Regions from separate parts of the Homo sapiens genome. Here region 2 is linked to region 1. Evidence: fine-mapped expression QTL. A gene starts in region 1. The other region holds a variant in brackets. All regions are shown on one strand. Distances are between the middles of the regions. Region 1 holds the start of HMMR (hyaluronan mediated motility receptor). Region 2 holds the start of HMMR-AS1 (HMMR antisense RNA 1).

Evidence for each region.
Region 2: its variant is fine-mapped to the expression of HMMR in activated naive CD4 T cells (Schmiedel 2018, PIP 0.95).

Annotation. Positions count from the first base shown.
Region 1 is chr5:163,458,026-163,463,408 of GRCh38, reverse strand. HMMR (hyaluronan mediated motility receptor) reads right to left here and starts at 2,777. Exons shown (of 18, transcript NM_001142556.2): 1 at 2,671-2,777. The coding sequence starts at 2,716. It overlaps NUDCD2 (NudC domain containing 2), which reads left to right and starts at 3,307. Exons shown (of 4, transcript NM_145266.6): 1 at 3,307-3,547. The coding sequence starts at 3,359. RefSeq lists enhancers at 2,531-2,590, 3,341-3,590 and a silencer at 2,921-3,010.
Region 2 is chr5:163,491,979-163,497,361 of GRCh38, reverse strand. It overlaps HMMR-AS1 (HMMR antisense RNA 1), which reads left to right and starts at 3,304. Exons shown (of 4, transcript NR_109892.1): 1 at 3,304-3,663; 2 at 3,813-3,919. The variant G/A (reference allele first, on the strand shown) is at 2,288.

The DNA.
Region 1 (5,383 bases):
ATCAATACATCAGACCTATTAAAGATGTCAACTGCAATTCAAACACATGGAAGAAAAGCAACCACACTAGAGCAACTAGAATTTTTTGAGCACTTACTAAATGCCAGGCATTATGCTAAGCATTTCACAGATGTTATTTTATTTAATCCTCACAAGAATCCTGTGTGATAATTTATAGACAAAGAATGTGAGGCTTAGGAAATTCAAAAAGCCAATGTTACACAAAGTACAAATTGTACTAGACTATATTTGTATGTTCCAGAAGTTTATACTGCATAATTTCACTTAACTAAAGTCCCAGATTTGAAGGCATTTCTGAGTAAATACACATAGCAGACCTGAGATGGGGCCTTTAGGACTTAAAGTAATTAAAATACTACTAGCCTAAAGCTTTAGCTGATTGGGAACAAATAGATTAATACTATTCTCTGAAAAGCTATTTACTTCAGTCTAGAGTCTCATGCAAATAAATAGGAAGAGCAAGGAGCTTGGACCATTCCCAGGCAACTACTGCTGTCCCCTAAATGTTTGTCAAACAGTAGACAGGAACTCATGATTTTTTTTTTTTTTTTTTTTTTTTTGAGACGGAGTCTTGCTCTGTTGTCTAGGCTGGAGTGTAGTGGCGCCATCTTGGCTCACTGAAACCTTTGCCTCCTGGGTTCAAGCGATTCTCCTGCCTCAGCCTCCCGAGTAGCTGGGATTACAGGCTCCCACCACCACGCCCAGCTAGTTTTTTGTATTTTTACTAGAGACAGGGTTTCACCATGTTGGCCAGGCTGGTCTTGAACTCCTGACCTCAGCTGATCTCTCTGCCTCGGCCTCCCAAAGTGCTAGGATTACACGTGTGAACCACCAGGCCCAGCCCCATGAGTAGATCTTGATTAGCATTTTTTAAAAAGTAAAAACAATAGAAAAAGCATGACTCATATGCTGCAAAGTTAGGCATTGTTTTGTGAAACTTTTCTTTCGTATGTATGTGTAGAGATATAAAAATACATCTTAGGTTGAAATATAAATTTTGGGGGTTTTTTTGCTTTTTTTTTTTTGAAACAGAGTCTCGCACTGTCACCCAGGCTGGAGTACTGGAATATGAAAAATCACCACAGTGCCTCATACACATTAAGCATCAAATTAATAATTAGTATTATTTCTGTAACTGTGAGCCTGAAATACTATATCTTTGATAAAGCCAGTTTAACCTACTATAATGCAAACAACAAAAAAACCAAAAAAACCTTAAAGCCACACTGCTGACAAAACTTAAGAGTAGGTCCTTTGATTACTCGGGAAATCATATGGTCCTTGAGTCTTTTAACTAAGAAAATAAGTTTGTGCTGATTCACTTGCTCATTTGGCCTTCCTTTGTGAGTAGTTGTATTTTCATTCACACGTTGGCTGACAAAACTTAGAGACGTAATGAGTAACCACGAAATAGTGTATGATAGTGAATAAATCATGAGCTTTAATATTTAGCTCTACCACTTACTGATTGTGCAAGATACAAAACCTCTGTTTTCTCATCTGTAAAATGAGGTCAATATCAGTACCTTCCTCACTTGGCTTTTGGAAGGAATAAACAAGATCTAGTAGCACAGTCCCAGCATACAGCATTTTTTTTTTTTCTGTAAGACAGAGTCTTGCTCTGTCGCCCAGGCTGGAGTGCAGTGGCGCGATCTCGGCTCATCGCAAGCTCCGCCTCCCGGGTTCACGCCATTCTCCTGCCTCAGCCTGTAGTCAGCTGGGACTACAGGCGCCCGCCACCGCGCCTGGCTAATTTTTTTTGTATTTTTAGTACAGACGGGGTTTCACGGTGGTCTCGATCTCCTGACCTCGTGATCCACCTGCCTCGGCCTCCCAAAGTGCTGGGATTACAGGCGTGAGCCGCCGCGCCCGGCCGCATACAGCATCTTAAATGATGAGTGCCTACCAAACACAGCTAAGGCTTCCTGGTTACTGTGCTGTGCATTGCGGTGTTAAGAGCACACGATGGGGGCTGGGTTCATATTCCAGTCCGGTCACTTTGGTAATGTAGCACTGAGCAAATTTAAGTCTCAGTCTTTTTATCAATAAAATAATAATAGGATTACCCCTTAGAGTTGGTGGGAAATTAACATAACTAATAATCGATGTAAAGCCTTAGTACGGTGCTTGAGGTATAAGTGGTCAATATCAGCCATAACTTCATTGTTTATGTTTTCAATAAGTGCTGCTGCTCTAATTTTACACCCATAAACTGCCTTTACTAATCTTCCTTCTTTTATGCCCAAATGGAATACACAAAAGAAATGCACAAGTTCAGACTACAAGTAATACTCCAGTGTTCTTATCAGTGAGGCCCTCTCGGACTTGAAAATCAAGTAGCTACCAACGTCTCGGGTCCATTCCCTTCGCCCTGCTGTAGTTTCTCCATTACCGCTGTTTATTGACAGTATTCCCCGCCTGAATGTAAGCCCCACGGGGCGGAGACTGTTTCACTGCGGTATCCTTAGCATCCTGATTAGTGCTTGGCATGTAACAGATGCTTAGAGCATATTTGAGAAAAATCAATCAACTGAATGAGCCCCAGCCCGACCCTAAAATCGCCTCCTGCTTGCCTCCCAAGAAGGGAGCTGAAAGAGGCAAAGGGCGTTAGGGCGTCTCCCGTCCCCCAGCTCTTTCCCCCTTACGCACCAGAAGGGTCATTGAATCGTTTCAAGGGCGCCTTAGGAAAGGACATGTTGACGGCCAGCTCCAGAAACTGAAGGTGACTGGCACTCCTCGACAACTGAATGCGGATTATCACTCCCTACCGGTTTCAAATTCAAATCTCCCCACATTCCCCACCCACCCCGGCGTTAGCCAATTGGAAAGCCAAACCCCTGGGCACACCAATCCCGCACAGGAACACGAAGAAAGAATGCTGGGTTCTGATTGCGTCCAATTAGCTGGCCTGCGAGTTTAGGCTGCCATCCAATAGGAGACCGTTACTGTTCCCCGCCCCACCCACCCAGTCATTCCCGGAGTTACTCAAGTGTAACCTAGCATTTGCGCAAGCGCACTTCCCTCCGGAGACGTTAGAAAGTGCATTTTGGCGTCACTTAGGGGACGGTGTAGTGAGTTCCGGCTTCACTGGTTCCAATTCTGTCCCATTGTTCGTTGCATGTGAACTTTTCTGGATTTCAGTTCTTTCATCCGGGGCCTGCCGGTGCCGTAAACGGCCATTCAAAGGGAAAAACGAACACGCACACCAAAGCGCTAGCTTGCGTTCCTGCGCATGCGCAGTGACCCGAGCGGAGAGGCCGAGGCGTAGCCTAAGCGTGGGATTCCGCGCGTGCGCTCGGCTCCGCCTGGTGCGGCCGCGGCCGGGAGGGACTGGATTATGTCGGCCCCGTTTGAGGAGCGGAGTGGGGTGGTACCGTGCGGGACCCCGTGGGGCCAGTGGTACCAGACCTTGGAGGAGGTGTTCATTGAAGTTCAGGTGCCGCCAGGCACGCGCGCCCAGGATATCCAGTGCGGCCTCCAGAGCCGGCATGTGGCGCTGTCGGTGGGCGGCCGCGAGATCCTCAAGGTAGCGGCAGCTCGGGGCTTGTGTTCAGTTTCCTCTTCCCAGACGCCCCCAGCCCCGTTTCCCTGAACGACTGTTGGGTGTCCCGACGGCTCCTGTGGCTGGCAGAAAGAGAAAGAGGATAACACTGACCAGGTTTGGGTCTGGTCAGAGCCCCCGCCTCTTCAGGGCAGGTGCTGAGTTGTGGAAATTTGAGGAGCCTATTTTCGTGTTTAGTTTTCAAACTAAGACTGCTGCTTCTGCTTCTCTGACGGGCTTCAGCTGGGAACAGATTAACTAGGTTGCTAAAGGAACAAATATTTCTTCCGTGCACTGAAGACAGGCAGGAAGACAACAGATAACGTACCTGCAGTGGAGAGGTTAAGCTCCTGTACGGAAGCGTAATTCATAAATAGATAAATATAGGAAAGGACAACAAAGAAAATAGGGATAGAATAACGGGCAGAGAATTTAGAGATGATGTCAGGTGATTAGTTTTCTCATCTAAAAGCTTGAAAATCCTGCATGTTTGTGGAGTGGTCAAGCAGGTGGTGAAGAGGTGTGTGCATAAAATAAGTAGTACTCCTTTTATTTCTTTTCACCAATGCTCTTTGGATCTGGACCCGCTTTTTCTTTGTTAAGTGTATAATTAAACTAACAGGTTGAAATTAGATTTAGTTCTCAGGTTAGATGCCCAAGATGTTTGATGGCAGTGTAATATGGTGAAGGGAGACTACTTGTTTCCTAGTTTTGTAAACTTGGGCGAGAGATTGTTCAGTGTCTCTATATCTTCCTTATCCACAAGATAAGGTAGTTATAGTACCCTTCTCATGGGATTGTTTTGAGCTTAACATGGTATTCACGTGTATGAAGAGCTTGGAGTATTCACTGGTATGTAATAAGTTCATACTATATGTTAGCTATTAGCTATTATATATATTACAGTATATGGAGGTGCTTTGAGTGCCTCAAGATTCGTGTGAAAGACATTATGTCAGCTTGGATCTCAGTTACTTTTCTGAATTGTACAATTCATAGTTTCCTCAACAATGGTTTTAGATTACGATTATAAATTAGTAAATCCAGTAACTTTCGGAATTTAGCAGTAGCTGCTGAATTTGGGATTTCTGATGTACGTATAGACCAGTGGGATTTTTTTCTCACTAATTTTGACATATTTTAAAATGTGGGCTTTTCCTAGTGACATTTAATTTCACTTTCTATAACTTAAATTTGGCAACAAATTAAAATGGATTTGAGTTTAGGCATTCTCTCTTTAAAAAAAAATATATATTTATTGAGACAGGGTCCCTGTCTCCCATGCTGGGGTGCAGGGGTGAGATTGTAGCTCACAGCAGCCTCAAACCCATGGGGTCAAGCAATCCACGTTGGCCTCCAAAGTCCTGGGATTACAGGCCTGAGCTACTGGGCCTGGTGCAGTCTCTTTTAAATTTATATTTTGTTTATTTTTTTAAAAAACATGAGTTTGTGAACAGTTAGTCACAACTAATCTATCAAATCTGGAATACGTAAAGTTTTTTTAATGCCGATTGCCCAACAAAAAGATTAAAACGTTTTTAAAAGTTTACTTTAAAAACAACATTTTGCCGGGTGCGGTAGCTCATGCCTGTAATCCTGGCACTTTGGAAGGCCTAGGCGGGCGGATCACAAGGTCAGGAGTTCGAGACCAGCCTGGCTAACACGGGGAAACCCCATCTCTACTAAAAATACAAAAATTAGCCGGGCGTGGTGGCGGGCGCCTGTAGTCCTAGCTACTTGGGAGGTTGAGGCAGGAGAATCGCTTGAACCCTGGAGGTGGAGGTTGCAGTGAGCCAGATCGTGCCACTGCAGCCTGGGCGA
Region 2 (5,383 bases), 34 kb before region 1:
TACATCAACTTGACTAGATCATAGGTTGACCGTGGGCACTACTTCAGGGGCTGTCTGTGAGGGTATTTCTGAATGAGGTTAATATTTGAATTAGTGGATGCACTAAAGCTGATTGAGGGTCCATTGAAGGCTGAGTAGAACAAAAAACAAAGGAAGGGAGAATTAATCCCTTCTTCCTGACCCCAGTCTTTTGCTGACTTTGGACTGAGACTTATACCTTCTGCTATGATGGTTCTCAGGCTTTCAAGCTTGTACTGAACAACACCTGCTTTCCTGGGTCTCCAGCCTGCAAATGGCAGGTTGCAAGCCTTCTCAGCCTTCATAATCATGTCAGCCAATTCCTCATAGTAAATCAACTTTTCTATGTATCTCTTACTGGTTCTGTTTCTCTGGAGAACTGTGACTAATACAGATTTTGGTACCAAGAGTTGTTCTAGAGGGACAGAATGTTAAGGATGAGTTTCCTGATGGTTCCAGGGTTCTTGGGATTGGTACTCTGATCTTATTAAACGTGTTAATGATTCTTTCCAGTTAGTAAAGTGAGCACTGAGTGCATAGCATGATCTGGCAATAGAAATACACAAAATAATTGCATTGGCCACTTCTAATCAGCCAGTTATAAGAGGCAAGGAGCTGGCTAACTGTGTATATGATATTTTTTTTTGATTTTTGGAAAACTAATTGTTGATGGCTGTTATGAAACCTTTGTTCTTGTCTTCTTAGTCTAAAAGAACTTAAGAGACACAGAGTGGAGAAGTTGCAGCATTAAACAATTCATTGCAAAGGAAAAAGAATATTTTGAAAGTTAAGTGCACAATAGATAGTACATCCTTAGAGAGAGGATTCAGTACAGGCTGCTGGTAAGGATGAGATCATAAAGACTGGCACTAGGGAGACTCCCTTTCTGGGAGTCTTACATGATTAATCATAAGGGGGTGGGAAGAGGTGTTACTAGTAAGCATGTTCTGGGTGGTCCTCTGGGTGCACAAGAGCAGTAGCTGTACATGCTTGTTCATATATCGCATGTCTCATTAGCATCTTAAATCTCCACCCAGCAGTGGGTTTTTTACTATTATAATGAACAAAGGGTCAGGCTGAGGATAGGTAAAATCAAAATGTATATGCTATATACAGGGAAATTTCCTACTGAAGATAGCTTTGCTTGAATTAGCTTGACTACAATGTGAATGCTGGGGCTTATTTTGTTAAAGTATGTGGTGCAGTAAGCCACAGTTGCTGCATACCAAGGGCATGTTTACTTCCTTGACTACCTATTCTGCCTCATAATGAGTATAATGAGGACAGTTGGTTGTTTCTAATGTCACTGGATAAAGTGGTGCAAAAGTGAGTGTAGGGATTTTTATTCCCAGCTCAAGTGCTCCATAAATAATCTGAAAGCTTCTATGTGCACCCTGAAGAAAACCCTATCTCCTGTAGCCCCAGAGCTGAGACTGTTGAAAATCAAACACAGCATCTCATCCTGTGACTGGCTGAATTACAACACAAATTAGAATTCCAGCCTTGCAGAGTGACTATTGTCAAAAGGAGGGCACTTACTGAAAAAAAAATGGGATTCTGTAAATTAGGATTGGGACATATGGGAAGACCTTGATGAAGCTGGGGACATTAAGCCCCTAAATTCTGATGAGTCTTCTTTGCTAGTGGAGAGGCTTCTCAACCCCATTGGAAGCAGCTTCTCCATTTCCAGTGATAGTACCCTCCAACCTGTCTGTGATGATTAACACTGCATTGCCTGAGGAAATTGTAATGGCCTCCTTTGAGGCAGTTGATATGCAAGACAATGTTGGTTCTCCTCCAGACCCAACTCCACCACCCTTCTTTGCTTCTAGACCTGAAACTAGACAGGAACAAAGTGTTACCTATGAAGAGATGTGCTATACTCCAAAGAGTTACTCAAAGTCTCTAATTTATACAGACAAAAATCTGGGAACATATGTCGGAATGGATAATAAAGGTGTTGGAAAATGATGGAAGGAACATAAAGTTGGATCAGGTCAAATTTATTGACATGGGCTCACTAAGCCAAGATTCTGCATTTAACATTGCAGCTTGGGGAGTTAGAAAGGGTGCTCACAGTTTGATTGGCTTACTAAAACATGGAAAAGATGAATTGGAAGTGCTGGACATGCCTTGGTTTAATCTAGAGGATGGGATTAAAAGGTTTAGGAATATTGGGAAATTAGATTTTTCACTTAAGAACTACTCATCTCGGGTGGATCATGAGGTCAGGAGATCGAGACCATCCTGGCTAACAAGGTGAAACCCC[G/A]TCTCTACTAAAAATACAAAAAATTAGCCGGGCGCGGTGGCGGGCGCCTGTAGTCCCAGCTACTCGGGAGGCTGAGGCAGGAGAATGGCGTGAACCCGGGAAGCGGAGCTTGCAGTGAGCAGAGATTGCGCCACTGCAGTCCGCAGTCCGGCCTGGGCGACAGAGCGAGACTCCGTCTCAAAAAAAAAAAAAAAAAAAGAACTACTCATCCACACTGGGAAGGTCAAGAAAGCATACCTTTCACCAATACTATGAGAAAGAAATTTGCGAGGAGAGCTCCAGCATCTTTTTCAGAACTCTGTGATGGCTCTTCTCTGTAGGCCAGAGCTCACTGCAGTCACTGAACTGGAAAACCTAAATATAATGGAAGTAAAGGATCCCAGGGTGGCAAGGGTCAAGTAATGGGACTCAACCACCAAAGGCAAGGTGAAGTGGTTATCATAATGACAGAGCCAAAGGAACAATTAGAATAATCTCACTTGTAGACCTATGCTTTGGCTAGTTGATCATGGTTTTCCTAGACGTGAAATAGATAGGAAGCCTACTGAAGTCTTAACTTGATCTGTATAAGCAGAAAACTTCTAAGTCAAGTGACGAAAGTTGAACTCGAATCATAAAAACAGAATCGTGGTCCCTTAATTCCCAAACTTGAGCCACTTTATAGAGCCCAAAACCCTTTGATTGAAGGGGAGGACCTCAAAGGGACCCTGGTCCATAACCAAATGTTTATACTGTTAGTCTTTCTCCTAGTCCTCCGCAAAGGGATGTACAACCTTTACCAACGTAACTGTGCATTAGAAAAAGGGAATAATCAGATCTTTTGTGAACTAGTGGACACTGGCTCTCTGAAGTGACACTAATTTCAGGAGATCCAAAGTGCTACTGTCAGGGTAGCAGCTTATGGAGGTCAGGTGATCAGCAGAGTTTTAGCTTAGTTCCATCTCACAATGGGCCCAGTGAATTCCTGAACCTATCCTGTGGTTATCCCCTAGTTCTAGAATGTATAATTAGAATACAGTCAGCAGCTGACAGAATAATCCACACATTGGTTTCCTTACCTATGGAGTGAGGGCTATTATGGTGGAAAAGGCCAAGTAGAAGCCACTAGAACTATCTGTACTTAGGAAAATAGTAAACCAAAAGCAATGCTCAATTCCTATAGGGACTGAAGAGATTAGTGCCACCATAAGTACTTGAAGGAAGGCGGGGTGGTGATTCCTACCATATGTCCATTCAACTCGCCTATTTAGCCTGGGCAGAAGACAGATGGATTATCACAAACTTAACTAGGTGGTGACTCCAATTGCAGCTACAGTACCAGATGTATTGCTTGAGCAAATTAACACAACTCCTGGTTCCTGGTATGCAGCTACCTGGTATGATCTGGCAAATGCCTTTCTCTCCATCCCTGTCTATAAGGCCGACCAGAAGCAGTTTGCTTTTAGCTAGCAAGGCTAGAAATGCACCTTCATGTCCTACCTCAGGGCATATCAACTCACCAGCCCTGTCCTAATTTTGTTCACAGGAATCTTGATTGCCTTTTCTTTCCACATCACATTGGTCCATTACATTGACGACATTATGCTCACTGGACCTAATGAGTGAGACATAGCAACTACTCCAGACCTATTGGTAAGACATTTGCATGTCAGAAGTGGGAAGTAAATCCAACAAAAATTCAAAGGCTTTTTCATGTCTCAGTAAAATTTCTAGGGGTCCAGTGGTATGAGGCATGTTGAGATACCCCTTCTAAGGTAAGTTTTTGCATCTGCCCCCTCCTACAACCAGAAGAGGCATGACATGCGGCAGGCCTCTTTGGATTTTGAAGACGTTTCCTCATTTGAGTTTGTTACTCTGGCCCATTTACTGAGTGACTTGAAAAGCTGCTAGTTTGGAGTAGGACTCAGAATAGGAAAGGTTCTGCAATAGGTCCAGGCTATTGTGTAAGCGGCTTTGTTGCTTGGGACATATGAACTTGCAGATCCAGTGGTATTTGAAGTGTCAGTGGCAGATAGAGATGCTGTTGGAACCTTTGGCAGGCCCACATAGATGAATCTCAGTGCAGACCCTTAGTATTTTGAAGAAAGACCTGTTATCCTATGCAGATAACTACTCTTTTGAGAAACAGCTCTGGGCCTACTGCTGGGCTTCAGTAGGGACTGAATGCTTACCGTGGTCAATTAAGTTACCATGCGACCTGAGCTGCCCATCATGAGCTGGGTGTTATCTGACCCACAAGCCATAATGCTGGGTGTGGACAGCAGGAGTACATCATCAAAGAACGTGTTATGTATGTGACTGGGCCCAGGCAGGACCTGAAGGCAAAAGCAAGTTACATGAAGAAGTGACCCAAATGCCCATGGTCCCTGTTCCTGCTACCTTGCCTTTTTTCTCCCAAGCTCATGGAGAGTTCCCTATGATGAGTTGACAGGAAGAAACAACATGGGCCTAGTTTATAGATGGTTCTGTGTGATATGTAGGCATCACCTGAAAGTGGATAGCCATAGTACACCAGCCCTTCTCTGGGACATCCCTGAAGGATAGTGGTAAAGAGAAATCCTCCCAGTGGGCAGAACTTTGGGCAGTGCACCTGGTTGTTCATCTTGTTACCCCATGTTGGCTAAAAGTAGAGGTCCTGAAGCATTTTATTATTTATTTATATATTTTTTAGAGATGAGGTATCACTATGTTGCTCAGGCTGGTCTTGAATTCCACCTGCCTCAGCCTCCCAAAGTGTTGGGATTATAGGCGTGAGCCACTGGGCCCAGCCCATTAAACCATTTTATTTTATTAGACAATTTTTCTAATTTCTACGTTTCTTCTGAACTTAATTTAAAAAACTGTATTTTAAAATTCAACCATGTATTAAGATCTAATAAAATAATAATGAAAAGCAATTCTGACTGATAGTCCCTGTTGAGCCATCAGTGAGAACACATTATAAAAAAGGTAGCTTATAAATATCATACCAATGATATGTGCAAAACAGGCATTTTAGAGAGAGATTTACCACTTTCCAAACAGTATCTTTTGTGATTCTGGGGACAAGGTGGTGTGGGTAGGGTAGAGATGATAAATACATCTTACATAGAAGCA